Regions from separate parts of the Homo sapiens genome. Here region 2 is linked to region 1. The links come from fine-mapping of genetic effects on gene expression. Tissue or cell type: tibial nerve. Region 1 holds a variant in brackets; the other region holds the start of a gene. All regions are shown on one strand. Distances are between the middles of the regions.

Region 1 (8,099 bases):
TGACATTCCCAAGGCCACCTCACACAGTCATCTGCCATCATTTGCAGATCACATGTCAGCTTACTTAGCAAGCCTAACAGAACGGACAGGAAAACGTAATGTTATAAACACATAATTCTCCCCAGAGAATTATGGGGACATAATAAATTCAATGCAATTCTAATTGGAGTCTCATTTGGGCTTCAATTTTTTTTTAAAGAAATAAATAAATGTAGTCTACATTTTACATGGAAGAATACAGATCAAAAGCAGCTAAGATGGCTTGAGAAAGAAGAAAACAGACAGGGTGTTTGCGCCTACAAAGCCGGGTAACTGAAAGCAGCAGTGGAAGAGGCTGGGCCCGTGGAGGGAGACCCAGGCTGCACGGGGTAGGACGGAGGGCTCTGCCGGGCATTTCCTCCTGGCCCCCCCGGGGAGCTGAGGTGTGCGTAATTAGTACTTGTGCTTGGTGGGGAGGAAGTGAGAGCAGAGGGCGCTGGGCCACTGCTTCTCACTTTCTGGGACCCCAGCATCCCCAGGCAGGAGCGTCCCTGTCCTGGCAGGCAGGTCTTGGGCCTCAGGTCTGAACATCTGAATATCTGTGCAGCCCTGCCAGGGCCCCTCTCGGTCCTGCAGGCTCCTGGCGCTGGCTGGGGCACAGGGAGCCCTGAAGACGCCTGGGGGTCTGTGGGTGCTGCAGGCACCGCTGGCTGGTTATAGTCGCAACAGCCCCCAGGTGGGCAATTTTCCTTCCACTTCACAGTGGAGGAAACGGGTTCTGAGAGGTAGCAGCTTTCCCAAGTGCAGGGGGGTGGGGGCAGGACTTGAACCCAGATCCCTGAGAATCTGAACCCAGGCCTCTGCTCTTGCTCTCCAAGCTTCCAGACAGAGAAGGAGAGTGGGTGGCGACGGCCATCGGGAGGGGCTCCAGACGGAGGACCGGGCAAGTGAGCGCCTGGTGGGCGGCCTGGGGCGGAGGCACCCAGGGAGCCCAAATCGGGGCACCTGGGAGGAGGAAGTTCCCAGAGGACTGCAGACCCTGCAGCTGTGCCTCCGAGGTCAGAACCGCCCACGCCCGCCAGGCAGGACGTGCGGCTCCTGGCCGCAGCTGTCAGGGAGGAAATTCACGTCTCAGCTGAGGTTTAAGAGGCATCTGACCCTCTGCTAAAAATACTCGGGCAGCGTGGGTCCGGTGGAGTTGGCTGTGGGGTGCGTCTGGGTGGGGGTCCCAGCGAGGCCAGAACAGGCGCCAGCGACCTGCAGAGCGGTGCAGTGCGGTGGGGCTTGTGGATGCCGGGCCTGCAGACCAGCTCCATGGGAGAAACTGGGGCGGGGTAGGGAAGGCGCGGTGAGTCGCCGGCCCGCGGAGCCCCCGTTTGTGCCCTCGCTGGCAAACTGTGAAGCCCGTGCAAGGCGGGAGAGGCCGTGGGCTGGCGGGAACCTGGGCGTCCTGGGCTGCCCAGAACGTGCTGCCTCAGTTTACCCAGCTTTACCATGCAGAGGCCAACCTCGCCCCTCCCTTTCTCACCAGTGGTCAGTAAGATTCGGGTGGTGTTGGACATCACCTGAACAGATGTGGAGGTGGAGGGGGGTTGAGGTGTAGGCAGGGGCTGTGGAGCACCCTGGGGGGGCAGGTGTTGGACACTGGGGTCCCGGAATCAGGCCCTGTGATCTCAGGGAGGCTCACCTGGCTTCTGGTTCCCAATCCCCTTCTGGGTGAGTGGACGTGCACCCCTCCCCCAGTGCAGAGGGCTTGTTGGGGTACTCTGCAGGTCTTTTCTCCCCACAGCAGGGGTGGAGTAGGAGAAGGGAAGCTTCGGAGGGAGGGGCTCTGGGCTGGGAAGGAGGGAGGGTCTGAGAAGCAGGGAGCCCTGGGACTGGTTGGGGCGGGTCACTCTGACACGGATCTCACTGTGGAGGGGGTGATGTTGCTGAGACCTGCATGGGTCCGGGCTTCCAGTGGCCCCACCAGAATCCAGGGCCACCAGGGTGGGGGGTGCTGGTGGTTTCTGAGTACCTTCCCACACTGCCCCCATGGCAGACCCCTCCCAGCAGATCCCAAACATTCCCCACTATGCAGGGGAAGGGTGAAGCCACATTCCCCACTACTCAGGGGAAGGGTGGAGCCCCCTTCCTCTGGGACCACCCGCCTGGAGTCACCTCCTCTGGGCCTGCATATCCCTCCCGGGGAGGGACAGAAAGGAAGGTGGCAGCTGGAGGGCTTCCAGAGACCACCGACCAGCACCGGGCAGACAGGAAGACTCTGGAAGTCAAGCTATGACTTTTTTTGAGACAGGGTCTCGCTTTGCCACCCAGGCTGGAGTGCGGTGGTGCGATCTCAGCTCACTGCAACCTCCATCTCCTGGGCTCAAGTGATTCTCCTGCCTCAGCCTCCCAAAGTGCTGGGATTATCTGCATGAGCCACCGCTCCCAGCCTAAAGGGGACATTTTCATTGTCAGTTTCTTAATTTCCACTTTAGAGGGCAGGAAACTAAATCAGCCAGTTTGGTCCAATGGCAGGGGTTTGGGCCCCTTCTGAGGGCAGCCTGCTCTTCAATTGTGGGGGCTGCCTCAGGGGGCCTTTGGTTTCGCATTGATGGGATGGCTGTACCACTCATCTTCCAAACCAGGACAGCTTTGAGAGAGAAACAGGTACCAGTGACGCCAGGACACCAGGGGTGGTGCAGCGCACCTGCAGAGCTGAGCCAGGCTCCGTCGTGGGCGGATGCGCCACCGGCAAAATGCATCTGTTTGTTGCTGCGTCACAAATGACCCTCAGACGTAAATCCCAGAGACCATGCATTTTGCTCCCAAATCTGCAATTTGGGCAGGGCTCAGCAGGACTGTCTCATCTCTGTCCACGTGGCATCAGCCGGGGTGCCCGAGTGGGGGCTGGAGGGCCACCTCTGTCATGGTTCACTCGGCATGGTGGCTGGAGCCCAAGTCAGCCTCCCAGGAGAACAAGATGGAGGTGCGTGGACTCCAGAGCTGTGAAAAGAAAATCCGTAATGGAGATGGTTATGTCAGGGCTATCTAAAAAGGAACTGGGAGGGCAAGAGGAGCTGGACCCCGTCCAACTCGCCAGATAGAATTGATCTGTTGACCTGGGCCGGATCGTGAACCAGCTGCATTTGATTTGAACCATTCACACCGGGCCTGATCACTGGTCTCCTGGAGACAGGCACACCTGACTAGATTGATCATCAGCCAGAGCTGTCCTAAGCTGTTAAGCCCCCACCGTCGGTCATGGACCA[TG/G]CCAACAGCTTCCGGATGTGTAGACTCACAGCAAACCTTTGTAAGCCCCTGCCCGGCCTCCCCCGCACAGACACGTTTGAGCTCCTTGCTAGATCTGTGTCTCCTGAACCGCAGTTCCTGAGGCCCTCCTTCTCTTTTGTTTCCTGATCTACAGTGTTGGTCTATTTTTTGTCAGTTGACAGAACATAGCCTTGCAAGTCACCCAGTCCCTTTTTTTTTTTTGAGAGAGGGTCTTGCTCTGTTGCCCAGGTTGGAGTGCAGTGGTGCAATCATGGCTCACTACAGCCTTGACCTCCTAGGCTCAAGCGATCCTCCTGCTTCAGCCTTGTGAGTAGCTGGGACTACAGATGTGTGTCACCATGCCTGGCTAATTAAAACAATTTTTTTTTTTTTTGTAGAGAGGGGGGTCTCACTATGTTGCCCAGGCTGGTCTTGAACTCCTCCGCTCAAGTGACCGTCTTGCCTCGGCCTCCCAAAGTGCTGGGATTACAGGCGTGAGCAACTGTAATGCACCAAGCTAACCCAGCTCACTTCTGCTATCCTCTGTCAGCAGAGACCCAAAGGCCTGGCCAGGCTCAAGGGGAGGGGACACAGCCCCTGCCTCTTGACGAGGGAGAGGCAGGGTTAGGAGGGCTTGTGGGATAGGAGATGGCACGGTGGCCATTATGGGACCCAGGCAGCCTCAGGAGGCGTGGGGGATGGCACTGCTCTCACAGGGAACATCTGAGCCCTGCGGGGGCAGGTGCATCTCAGCAGTGCGGGTGTGCACCCGGAGAGATGCTTCTCTGCTCACATGGGTTTGTGCCCGTGCCCTGTCTGCACAGTTTTCTGCAGGCTCTGAAGGAGCAGCCATGCACATGCTTTCTGCTTCCTCTTTCTTGACAGCGCTTGCCTGTGGGTGCCAGGACCCCACATGCTTTTGGTTCCCCTCTGGATGAGTGAGCCCAAGTTACCGTAACAGAAGACCTCAGCCTGGGCAGCTTAGACGATAGACCTTTATTTTCTCACAGCTCTGGAGCCTGGAAGTCCAAGATCAAGGTGCCACCAGTGTCAGAGCTGGTTTCTCATGAAACCTTCTCCCGGCCTTGCTGCGCCCACCTCTGGTGTCTCCTCCTCTTCTTGGAAGGCCACAGCCCTGTTGGATTAGGGCCCACCCTTATGACTTCGTAAAGGTCGTAGTTACCTTCTAAAGACCCTATTTCCAAATCAGTCACATTGGGGGTTGCGGCTTGACATAAGGATTTGGGGGGGCCACACTTCAGTCCATAGCACCCTCCTACCTCCCTGGCTGCCCCACCTCTGCCTCTGTCATCCCCTCCTCTCCCCGAGGAGAGGCCTCCTCTCCGGAGGGGCCGTGCCCCATCTCATCTATGAAGACTGCCCCCCGCCCCCGCTCCCGCGCTGTCTGTGCACCGTCAGCCTCCCACCGCCCTCCACGTCCTCAGAAACACACACTTGATGAGGCTGAAAGAACCGTGACTCTCTCGCCCGCCCCCACCATCTGCTTTTGCCTCCCGTGGGACACCCCACCACTTTGTCAAGCCCCGAGCCAGCCTCTCTCCGTGTTCTTCCCTCCCCTCACTGCCTCCACACCGAGGAGCTAGGCACTGCTTCCTAAGTCTCCCTTCCTGCATTGCTCACCACCTCCCCTGCCGCCACCATGTCCAGGGGCCAAAATTGTTCTGTCTGTTCTCCCTCCCTCCGCTGGGGCCTGAGGGCAGTCTGCTCCCATGGGAGCCGGCGGGATGCTGGCAAGTCACAGATGCAATCCTGTCCATGGCTCCCGCCTCCCTGCAGGTTACAAACATGCCTCCCTTTTCCTGCTGTTGGAATGAAGCTCAGAACCACGGCCCTGAGGCCCCATCCTGTCTGGTCCTGCTGCCTTCAGCCACGTCTCAGACCCCTTTCTGCGCCCGTCTGCCTCCAGCCGCACTGACATCAGTGCCAGGCATGCGCCTCTTCCCTCCTTCCCCAGGGCCTTTGCACGTGTAGCTCCCGCTGCCTGAGCACTCTTCCATGGCTCTGGCTCAGTCTGACATTCTATTTTTTCCTTGGAGAGTTAAGTGGAAGTTATATGCTCTATTTCTATTTTAAAATAGTCACTCTTAGAATTTTAACAAGTATATTTAGAATTCAAAGATAGCCAGTGTTTCCATCCTCCTCCTGATCACGCCCCTCCTGGCTCACAGATCATTACGACTGCCCAATACTCAGGTCTGCCTTGCCTTTATCACCCTCCACTTTCCACAGGGCTTTGTTGCACACAGCCAGCACTCGTTGAGGTTTGCACATGTTTGCACCCCACTCTTTCTGGCAGCCCAGGCGTCCCCTCTTTCTGAGCTGTATTCTGTGGAGGTTGCTCTGCTAAGGAGCTGGGTGGTGGCGCAGTCATTTTGCTGATCTGATGCTTCTCCCACACCCGTAAGTGGGAGTGGAGCAGGGCGTGTGGGTCCGGCTGCTGCCTCTGCCTCGGCACTTCAGAGACGGTCATCTGCTCCTGTTCTTGCCGTTCGCGGGGTCTGCCTCCAGCAAGTTCTCCTTCAGCATTCTGAGTGTACCACGGGACAGCTAGGTATGGGCTGCTTTTATTCTTCCTGCTTGAGAGTGCTGCACTCTTGAGGCTGAAGTTTCCATATTTTATCAGTTCTGGAAAATTCTCAGCCATATTGTCAGGGAGCTGGTGGGCTCTCCCCGTTTTATTTATTTCCACCTCTTGGAATTCCTTCCTTCCTTCCCGCCTTCCCACCTTCCCTCCTTCCCTCCTTCCCTCCTTCCTTCCTTCCTTCCATCCTTCCTTCCCTTCCCTCCCTCCCTCCCTTCCTCCCTCCCTCCCTTCCTTCCTTCCCTCCTTCCCTCCTTTCCTCCCTCTTCCCTCCCCTTCCTTCCCCTTCCCTCCCCTTCCCTTCTCTTTTCTTTTTGAGGCAAGTCTCGCTCTGTCACCCAGGCTGGAGTGCAGTGGCATGATCTCTGCTCACTGCAAGCTCCGCCTCCTGGGTTCACGCCATTCTCCTGCCTCAGCCTCCCGAGTAGCTGGGACTACAGGCACCCACCACCACGTCTGGCTAAGTTTTTGTATTTTTAGTAAAGACAGGGTTTCACTATGTTAGCCAGGATGGTCTCAATCTCCTGACCTCATGATCCGCCCGCCTCAGCCTCCCAAAGTGCTGGGATTACAGGTGTGAGCCACCGCGCCCGGCTTCTTTTCTTTTCTTTCTTCAGAGTCTCGCTTTCCTGCCCAGGCTGGAGTGAAGTGGCGCAATCTTGGCTGCACTGCAACCTCTGCCTCCCAGGTTCTCCGGGATTCTCCTGCCTCAGCCTCCCGAGTAGCTGGGATTACAGGCACCCGTCATCATGCCTGGCTAATTTTTGTATTTTTAGTAGAGATATGTTTTCACCATGTTGGCCAGGCTGGGTTCGAACTCCTGGCCTCAAGTGATCCACCTGCCGTGGCTTCCCAAAGTGCTGGGATTACAGGCATAAGCCACTGTGCCCAGCCCCTCTGGAATTTCGATCGGAAGTACGGAAAACCTTCTTATCCATCTCTCCTATGTCTTAACCTCTTCTGAACCCCCTTAACACCTCCTATCTGTCTGTGCCGATTAGGGGTGATCACAGTCTTCCCTATCGATTCCTCACTTCCCTCTTGATCTGCATCAAATCAGCTGCCAGACCAGCTGACTGGGGGCTTGTTTCCACACCGTCTTCCCATGTTTCCAGGTACAGTTCAAGTTCAGTGGCAGTAAGTACATTCGCATTGTTGTGCAACCAATCTCCAGAACTTTTTGACCTTCCCAAACGGAAACTCTGAAACAGCAAACACAAACTCCCCACACCCTCCTTCCCCCAGCCTGGCACCCTCCATTCTGCTTTCTGTCTCTGCGGTTTTGACTGCTCTGGGAGCCTCACAAACATGGAGTCAGGCAGCACTTGCCCTTTTGTGTCGGTTCTTTCCCTCAGCATAATGTCTTCAAGCCTGAGCTGTGTGGCAGCCTGTGTCAGGACCTCCTGTGTTTGTTGTTGTTGTTGGTGTTGTTGAGGCTGGATAATATTCCCCTTGATGGATACGCCACTTTTTTCTTTTTGAGACAGGGTCTCGCTCTGTTGCCCAGGATGGAGTGCAGTGGCGCCATTATGGCTCACTGCAGCCTCGACCTCCCTGGGCTCAAGCAATCCTCCCACTTCAGCCTCCTGAGTAGCTGGGACTACAGGCGCACACCAGCATGTTTAGCTAATTTTCGTATTTTTTGTATTGATGGATTTTCACCTGTTGGCCAGGTTGGTCTTGCACTCCTGAGTTCAAGCGGTCCACCCGTCTTGGCCTTCCATGTGATGGGATTACAGGCGTGAGCCACCTCGCTCGGCCTGGATACACCAGGTTCGCCCAGCCGCCTCGCCCGGCCTGGATACACCAGGTTCGCCCAGCCGCCTCGCCAGGCCTGGATACACCAGGTTCGCCCAGCCGCCTCGCCCGGCCTGGATACACCAGGTTCGCCCAGCCGCCTCGCCAGGCCTGGATACACCAGGTTCGCCCAGCCGCCTCGCCCGGCCTGGATACACCAGGTTCGCCCAGCCGCCTCGCCCGGCCTGGATACACCAGGTTCGCCCAGCCGCCTCGCCAGGCCTGGATACACCAGGTTCGCCCAGCCGCCTCGCCAGGCCTGGATACACCAGGTTCGCCCAGCCGCCTCGCCCGGCCTGGTTACACCATGTTCGCCCAGCCGCCGCGCCAGGCCTGGATACACCAGGTTCGCCCAGCCGCCGCGCCAGGCCTGGATACACCAGGTTCATCCATCCGTGAGCACCTGGGCTGCTTCTACCTTCGTGTGTTGGTGAATGATGCTGCTGTGGACACGGGTGTGCAGATA
Region 2 (8,099 bases), 33 kb before region 1:
GCAAGGACCCAGGTACAGATGGGGAGATGGAGGCCAGTGGGATGCTGGCCCTCCTCGCACAGCTGGCCACGTCCACCCCCGACCCGGCGAGGGCCAGGACAGCTCAGGCACGAACAAACCCCTGCACCACTGGCCATGCCCACTGGGACTCCATGCGTGTTGGGCAGCTGGCCACTCGCTGGGCAGAGCGAGGGGCTGGGGCTGGCCTCTGCCCACAGCAGCTGAATGGGGGCTTGGAGATGATACAGAAAAGCCACTACCCGGGGCTGGTGTGCTCAGCGGCCACTGCTTCCCTCTCCCTCCCTCCTCAACTGTGCCCTGGGTTAGCCTCAAAGCTAGGCTTTGACACTAGCCCTCGTCTGCAAAATGGGAAGCAGACAGCCTGCCCTCCGCCCCCAGTGTGGCTCCTGGTTGAGTTCTGGCCCACCAAGGGCTGCCTGGGGGCCTCTGCCTTCACTGTGAGGTGGGCCCGGGGCAGAGCCCTGTAACAGTAGGACAGCCCTCCAATCCACCCCACTCCCTCTCCCCCACCCCACCTCTCCCACTTTGGACCTTGGGGTGCTCAGACTGTGTCCAGGTCACAGGAAGCAGGTGGGGTGGTATAACGCTGTCACAGCACGGGAGCACAGGGTCCCTGCCCAGGGCACCAGGGCCAGGGGCCTTGGCAGCATCTTCCCATGTCCCTCTGACCCTGCAAAGGCCTTGATCGGCGGCCAGGAGCCTGGCCAGGCCTCCAGTGGTGCCCATCTGCTCCTTCTGGGTCTCCATGCCATTTCCAACAGACAGAGGTTGGGGCTGAGGGAGATGGAGGGTGCCCCAGCCACGGCCAGTCACCCTTCTGGGGTGAGAACAGGAGTGAACTGAGGGCACAGAGGCTCGGGGCAGCCCAGGCTGGCCCTTCTCTCAGGACTCTCCTGGTACCTCTCTCTCCCTCCCTGCTGCCTCTGGGAAAAGCTGCAGGCGAAAGAGGAAAGCAGCCTTGGCCCTTGCCCTTGGCCATTGGCGTGGCAAGGTCCTCAGGGCCTTCACGCTAGTCATCCCATCTGGGCTGTGACCACACTGGTCATTCCACCCAGGCTGTGACCCAGGCCGACTGGCTGGGAGGGCTCCGGGGTCCAGGCTGGCCCTTGGGCAGTTGTCTGTCTGCATGGGCTGCTCTGGAGTGACACAGGTGGTTGCCTGGAGGGCGGGCCTATTCCTGCCCCACCAACCCCCGAGTTTGGAGGCCCGGTAATGGCTACTTGACCAGGACAGGCCTGTCCTATTCCCAGAGTGGCAGTGCCAGCACCCTGAGCCTACCCCAGTGGTAGCAACAAGGGCTGGGGGGCCTCGGCCTCCAGCTACTCTGTGGGGCCAGCCCATTTGCACCCTGACCCCCAGTAAGTGCCCTGCACCTGCCTGGCACCGTGCTGAGCGGGGCTGGGCTCCAGGCTCTGGGCACAAGGGCAGATGCACACAGTAGGGGCTTTATCAGCACCTCCTGGCAGAATGGATGGCACTGAGTGTAAAATGGCACCGACTGTCCCGCGCCTCACCTGTGAAATGAACGCTCCTGCAGGACCCACGTCGCACTGGGAGGGATGAGGGTGGGAGACCGTGCGGAGGGACCCCGCAGGCTGGCTCATTCCTTTCCTCCTCACCCACTCACCCAGCACACAGACCCTGCCCAGGCTGGCGTGAATGGTGAGTGGACAGACCCGGCCTGAGGCTGGCCCTCGGGGACTGACATGAGCCCTCAGAGGGGCGACCCTAAGCAACCCCTGTGGTTCCTTATTTAATTACAGCTTAGAAAGGGCTGTGAGAGAGGACGGCCCCTCAGGAGAGGACAGGCACCACCGGTCTGCCCTGCTCTCCTGGCCTGGTGGTTGCCAGGGTATACCGGCACTGGGCTGGGGGGCAGCTGTGTGAGCAGACCTCACCCCAGCTCAGGACCCAGGCTGTCTGGGTGCTCAGAGGCAGACCAGGCAGGACTCTCCCTCCTAGGGTGAGGCTGGCAGGAGTGGAAGCCTCTCTAACAGGGGGCCAGGTGGTTGGACCCTGCTCACCCCTCCAGCGACGGGGAGCCCGTGCCCCTGCCCTCTCTCCTTCCCACCGTTGGTAGAACTTAGTCTTTGACTTTAGGTGTCCACTAGGCCTGGGTCTGCTGTGGCCCCTGGGGACCACCCTCCAGAGACTGGCTCCTATGTGGCCTCCACCTCCCGGCCTTCCCGTCCACCATCCTGAAAACAGAGGTGGGTGTGCCTTCTCCAATGTAATGTGTCCACTGGGCCATGAACCACACACCTATCAGACACCTGCTGTTTGCAAGATGGAGGTAGGGGAGGGGCTGGCAGCAGGGAGTCAGGTCTCATTCCTGACTACAGGGAAATTTGACCTCCAGGCACCAGCAAAAAGCCAGGGGCTTGAGCTTACTTCACTGTCCCCGTCCAGAGCTGGGCCAGCTGCGTCCTGCCCCACACCCACAGGCAGCACCGCATCACTTTCCAGTCACCACCCACCCCTCCCGCAGCCTGCATGAACCGCATAACTTTTCCAACCCAGGAAGTAACTGCACTTTGATGGAAGGCGCAGAGTCTATTTCAGGTAGGAGCTTCCACGTCCCCACATGTGCGGTGTGTGTCATTCGCTTGACAGCCGTCAGCTCCTCCACAAAGTGGGCGCTCACCTGAAGGTTAACTCAGGAGCCCTGGCTGTGGAGGCTACAGTCGCACCTGGCCACTTGGTCCGTCCCCACTAGCGACATCCCCTTTGCCGGGCTGCAGGGCCCATGACAGTCCAGGGATGGGAGGGCAGGGCCTGGGCAGGGCCCACTGCACCAACCTGGCTTTTAGAACAGAAAATTGCTGCTGCCCTGGTAGGGGTGGGAGCAGTGTGAGGTCTCAGACCCCAGGCCTGGAACCCAATGCTACTATTTGCTGCACTGGGGGCTGAGCACCGACACCCCAAAAGCCCCTGGCTGGGTGGCACCCTCGGGGTCTGAGGCACTGCTCTGGGACCCCACCTTCCCAGTGCAGGGCGGCAGGGAGCAGGTCCCAGCCTGAGCTGCTGTCCCACCCTTCAGAGTGCAGATGTGGAAACTGAGGCCGGAAGAGGGCGAGTATCCTGCTCCATTCCAGTGCCAGACGGAGGGGCAGGGCTGGCAGTAAGGGAATTTCCTACGTCCAGCGCCTTCTGGGTGTGCCTGACCTCTGGCCCGGTTCCTGGGTTCCTGGTTCCCTGCCTGGGCAGGGTCTCTGCCTCTCTGCCTCCTGGTGTGTCCAGCTGGAGTGGGCAGTAATGCTGTGGTCACAGCTGAGCTGCGGGAGCCCTGGGTGGGGAGCTTGAGCCCCAGAAGGCCCAGACAGACAGACCACCCCCCACGCCTGTGCTCCCCAGGGGGCATTGGGGACGGTCAGGGACACAGCTGGTCACCCCGCCTTCCCCTCCTTAGTCATGGTCACTCCTGGGGCGACTCCCCAGTTAGAGGGTTGACGGGTGGGTCTGGGGGCGTACAGGGATTGGATCCTACCCCACCCAAAAGGAACAGAGAGCTGTGATGGAGGCTGATTCCCCTAAGCCTGCCAGCGGTTGCGGGGTGGGAAGGGCTCCCTGTGCGCCCACCTGCGCGTGGGCAGCTGGAAGCCAAGCAGTCAGGGTGGGGCCGCAGGCCGGCGCGCACCTCGGGGTGCCACCCGGGCGGCGGACCCGAAGTTGAAGTTTATTTTCCCAACTGTGGCTGATTCATGGTCAGGATGTGGCAGCCGCGAGGCGCGGAAATCCCGCCTGCCCTGGGAGTAGGCCCGGCCGACCCTGGGCCCACCACTCTGCGGCCAGTGCGCGCTCGGGCGGTGCCTCGGCGCGGAGGACCATAGTCCCGAGCGGGGCGCGCGGAGCCGGGGGGGCCAGGGGCGCCCTGGGGTCCCCGCCCGGGAACTGTACCCTGCGCCGCCGGACCGCCCGCCGCCACCTGGGCACACACGCCGCAGCCCGGAACCTCGCTCCTGGACCCAAGCACGCCCCTGCCTCCTCCCGGACTCAGTTTCCCCTGAAGCTCCAAGCGGACCCCGAGGCCAAGGACTTACCCGGTGAGGCAACGGCCAGAGGGCGGTGGTGCGGCCGGCGCTCCGTCCGGGGCCGGGTCAGGGGCTGCGGGCAGCCGGCGCCCACTGCCGCGCTCCGCAAGGCTCGGACGGTGGCTCCTGGCGGGCGCGGGGCGGGCGGGGCGGGCGGGAGGAAGAGGAGGTGCCGCCCCGCCCGTCAGCGGCCACGTGGGGAGCGAGCGCGGGCCGGGGGCGGGGCCTGGGGGGGGAGGTGGGTGGCTGGGGGTGGCCCCGCCCACTGTGGCCGGTCCCTGAGGGCGCTTTAAGGGGTCTCCCCACTCCCGTGAATAACCTGGCCGCCCCCTCGCGGTCCCTGCTGGCCTGGCTCCTGGTGGGCGGAGATGGGGGTGGGACGCGCAGATCGGGGCCGTCTCCCGCCTCAGCCCCCACTGTCCGCCCCGTCCCTGCCCTCCACCGCCTCCCGTCCACCTACACCCCTATCCTCCGGTGGGACTGGCCTCCCAGGCGCCGCTCACCTCTCTCTGCCCCGGCCCGGGACTCCCGTTCCAGCCAGCCGGATCCGGAGTCCCCGCGTTCGGGGATCCCTCAGCAGAGATGGCTCTTCCCAGGCTTTGGGGAGAGAGAGCCTACCCATCAACCAGGCCACCCATGTGGCCTCCTCTCCGCAGCCCTGCCTGACCCCCTTCCACCCTTGATGGGGTCTCGGCGGTCTTGGGCAGCCGCACTTCGCCGGTTGGTGGAGACAGCTGCATGAGGGCCGCGGAGGTGTCGCAATGGGGTGGGTTTTCTCTGCCACCCCTCTGCTGTCCGGCCTCATCTGTCTCCTAGATTGAGGGGGGCACCCATCCCCCCACCGCCGACATTGACCAGCATGGGGCGTGCCCATAGTCGGCTCTGAAAGCCAGCCTGGTTGGATGAGAGCCAGACCCCAGCTCTGGAAGTCCCTTCTGACGTCTGACCCTCAGTCAGAGCTGCAGGAAGCAGCGCACCAGGCCTGGGGTTTGGGGGCCACTGGCAGCTAGAGGGAGGGCAGAGGAAGGCAGGCCTGGGGGAGCCCCCGTGTGACATGTGACAGAGCAGACACAACCCCTGCCCTGAGAACCGGCGCCAGCACTCCCTGTGCGGCCTCAGGCTCGGATATGACTCTGTGGAGCCTCAGTTTCCCCATCTGTAAAATAGAATAAGTACCCGTAAGGGCTGTATGAGGGTCAAGAACATGCGGATAAAGTGTCTCCACTCGGAGTCCTGACATCTCTCTCCGGAGGGCCTGCTGTGTGGGCCGTGGCGGCCAGGGCTCAGGGTGAGGGCGAGGGGAGAGAAAAGGGCTCCTGAATGGCTTCCCAGCCCCGATGCAGCTTCTGCTTTGAGGCCAGCTGCGTGTCCTTTGGCTTTGGTGTGCCTCCGCTCCGGTGGGGATAAGCGCCGAATTGCAGGCTGCGTCTGTCTGCTCCCTGTGCGGACCTTGCCCTGCCCAGCAGCCCCAGCCCCGGAAGTTTGCTGGCTCAGCCCCAGTGCAGGAGCAGCTGCAGGCCACAGCCCCGGGTGTGCCTGAGGAGCCAGCCAAGGCAGGCGCTCACTGGACACCCTCCAACCTGGGCGGCCGCTGCTCCTAGACAGGCACTCTGCAATTCTTGGAATGCACCTGGAAGGCCGGCCTCCGGCCCTCCACACCGGGCTCCAGGGCCCCTTCCAGAGCAGAAGGCCTTCCTGCCCTCCCTCAAGCTGGGCTTTGGGTCTCCTGGTGCACTCCTGGACCCGAACATTGGTGCCTGCCCTGGTACCACCCCACCCTGGAGGGCACGGGCGGGGCTGACTCATCTGCGTTGGGAGCTGATGCCTGGCAGCGGTGCTGGGCAGTGGGTGTGTTTGTTGATCCAGTGAATGGAGGAATGTGAGGAGGTTGGTGGGGAGTGAGCTTTGACCTGCAGCCCCCTCCCCTGTCCACCTGCCTGGGGGAAAGTCAGAGTCCTGAGCCTTACTCAGAGGCTGGAGTAGGAGGTCAGGTGTGGGCGAGGGGTCCACCTTTCCTGCCCTGATGGGGGAGGGAGGCCCAGCGCCCCCAGGGCCGCTCCTGCCTGGGGCTGTCTCCCTTGCACCCAGTCGTGCTTCCGAGCTGCACACCTGGTCCAGAGAGGCCAGCACAGGCCGGAGCAGGGTGAAGAAGGTGGGGTGAATGTGATTTAGTTGGAGAGAGGTTGGAGAAGTCCCTGGGGTCGGCAGGGAGTGCAGAGGAGGGCTTTGGGCCCTGATTAAGAGTGTGTGTCTGTGTGTGTGTGTGTGTATGTGTGTGTGTGTGTGTGGAGTGGAGGCCGAGGTCAGAGGTCTGGGAGGGTGGAAATGTGGACACTGAAAGGGGGTTTTCCGTCAGGCTTGAACCCACCATGCCCGGGGCAGCAGGGTTCAACCCGGCTTGAGCACTGATTTTCTGAGACATACAGAGGCCCCCTCCTCTTCTCCTTCAGTGGCTCACCCTCAACCCTCTGTACCTCCAGCGCTCCCAGACTCCATCCTGGCCCTATTCTGAGCTTGCTTCCTGGCCCTGGGGTTGAAGAGAGGACCGATTTGGCCTCAGAAACACACCACCTGCAGCCACTGCCTGCGGCTTCCGGAGCTGCTTCCTGGAAGCCATGGCCTGCCTGGAGCCTCCCCTCCTGGGTGTCGGTCCTTCCTCGGAGCCGGGTACACAAGTGCCGGCCCCCAGCTGCAGGTACCCAGATGCCTGAGAACAGGGTCGTGCAGGTACAGGCTGGTACTGTGACACACCCAGGCGGAGCCACATGTTCCTGGCCACTGGCACAGAGTGCAAGAGTGGCCCTGCCACTGTAGGCCTGTGGAGAGCTTGCCTCTGCCTCTTGCTGGAAGATTGGGATGAGGGGAGAGCAGGCCTTGGCACCGACAGCTTGAGTTCTGCTAGAAACAGGCAGGCAGGTGTGGGCGTTCTGAGAGAAATCCTCCCAGCCTGATGTTGGCGCCGCCGTGCAGTCAGGACAGCCCTGCATGCAGCAGGCGGCCACTTGCAGGCCCAGAAGGGCTTCCTGGGGTCCACCTGAGCAGCAGCCTGGCCATGGGTTCATTTCCTTCATCAGTTCAGCACCCAGAATGCTTTTTATCTTTTTTCCCCTTTTGAGATTTTATTTTGCATCCTACTGTGGTGCCCTGAGATGATCTCTGACATTGTTACAGAATGAAGTAAGTGAAAACATGCCTGCTCACCCATGTCCACCCACCTTGCCCACCTATGTACCCATTCACCCATTCATCCATCCATTCCCACACACACCCACACTTCATCCGTCTGTTCACCCACCTACCCACCCATTCACCCACCCACCCTCATCCATCCATCTGCCTATCCATTCATCCATCCACCCACCCATCTGTCCATCCACTTATCCATACACCTACCCATCCACCTATTCACCCTTAATCCACTCATCCACCCATCCACCCACCTACCCACCCATTCATCCACCTACCCTTATCCATCCATCTGCCCATCCATTCATCTATCCACCCACCCACCTATCCACTCACACATCCATCCACCTACCCATCCACCCATCCACCTACCCACCTATCATCTACTCATCCATCCATCTGCCCATCCCTTCATCCATCTACCCATCCACCTACCCATCATCCACTCATCCACCCATCTAACCACCTACCCACCGACTGATCCACCCACCCTCATCCATCCATCTGCCCATCTATTTGTCCATCCACCCACCCACCTACCCACCCACCTATCCACCCACCTACCCATCCATCCATCCACCTACCCACCCATCATCCACTCATGCACCCATCCCCCCACTTACCCACCCATTTGCCACTCACCCACCCACCCTCATCCATTCATCTGCCCATTCATTCATCCATCCACCCACCCATCCATCCATCCACCCACCATCCACTTACCCATCGGCCTACCCACCCATCATCCACTCATCCACCCATCCACCCACCTACTCACCCATTCATCCACCCATGCACCCACCCTTATCCATCCATCTGCCCATCCATTCATCCATCCACCCACCCACCTATCCACCAACA

What was found. PIP is the estimated chance that this variant, and not a neighbour inherited with it, causes the effect.
Region 2: INF2 starts here. The variant in region 1 is fine-mapped to the expression of INF2 in tibial nerve (GTEx, PIP 0.97).

What each region holds. Positions count from the first base shown.
Region 1 is chr14:104,653,182-104,661,280 of GRCh38, reverse strand. LINC02280 (long intergenic non-protein coding RNA 2280) reads left to right here. Exons shown (of 2, transcript NR_135293.1): 2 at 1-161. Among named protein-coding and RNA genes, the nearest start is that of LINC02280, 8.3 kb to the left of the region's middle. RefSeq lists enhancers at 819-1,413, 1,414-2,008, 2,709-2,778, 2,829-2,958, 4,109-4,218 and 3 more. The variant TG/G (reference allele first, on the strand shown) is at 3,234.
Region 2 is chr14:104,685,702-104,693,800 of GRCh38, reverse strand. It overlaps INF2 (inverted formin 2), which reads right to left and starts at 4,183. Exons shown (of 23, transcript NM_022489.4): 1 at 4,062-4,183. RefSeq lists enhancers at 1-257, 4,212-5,201, 5,202-6,189 and silencers at 3,670-3,719, 3,810-4,049, 4,070-4,159, 4,260-4,519.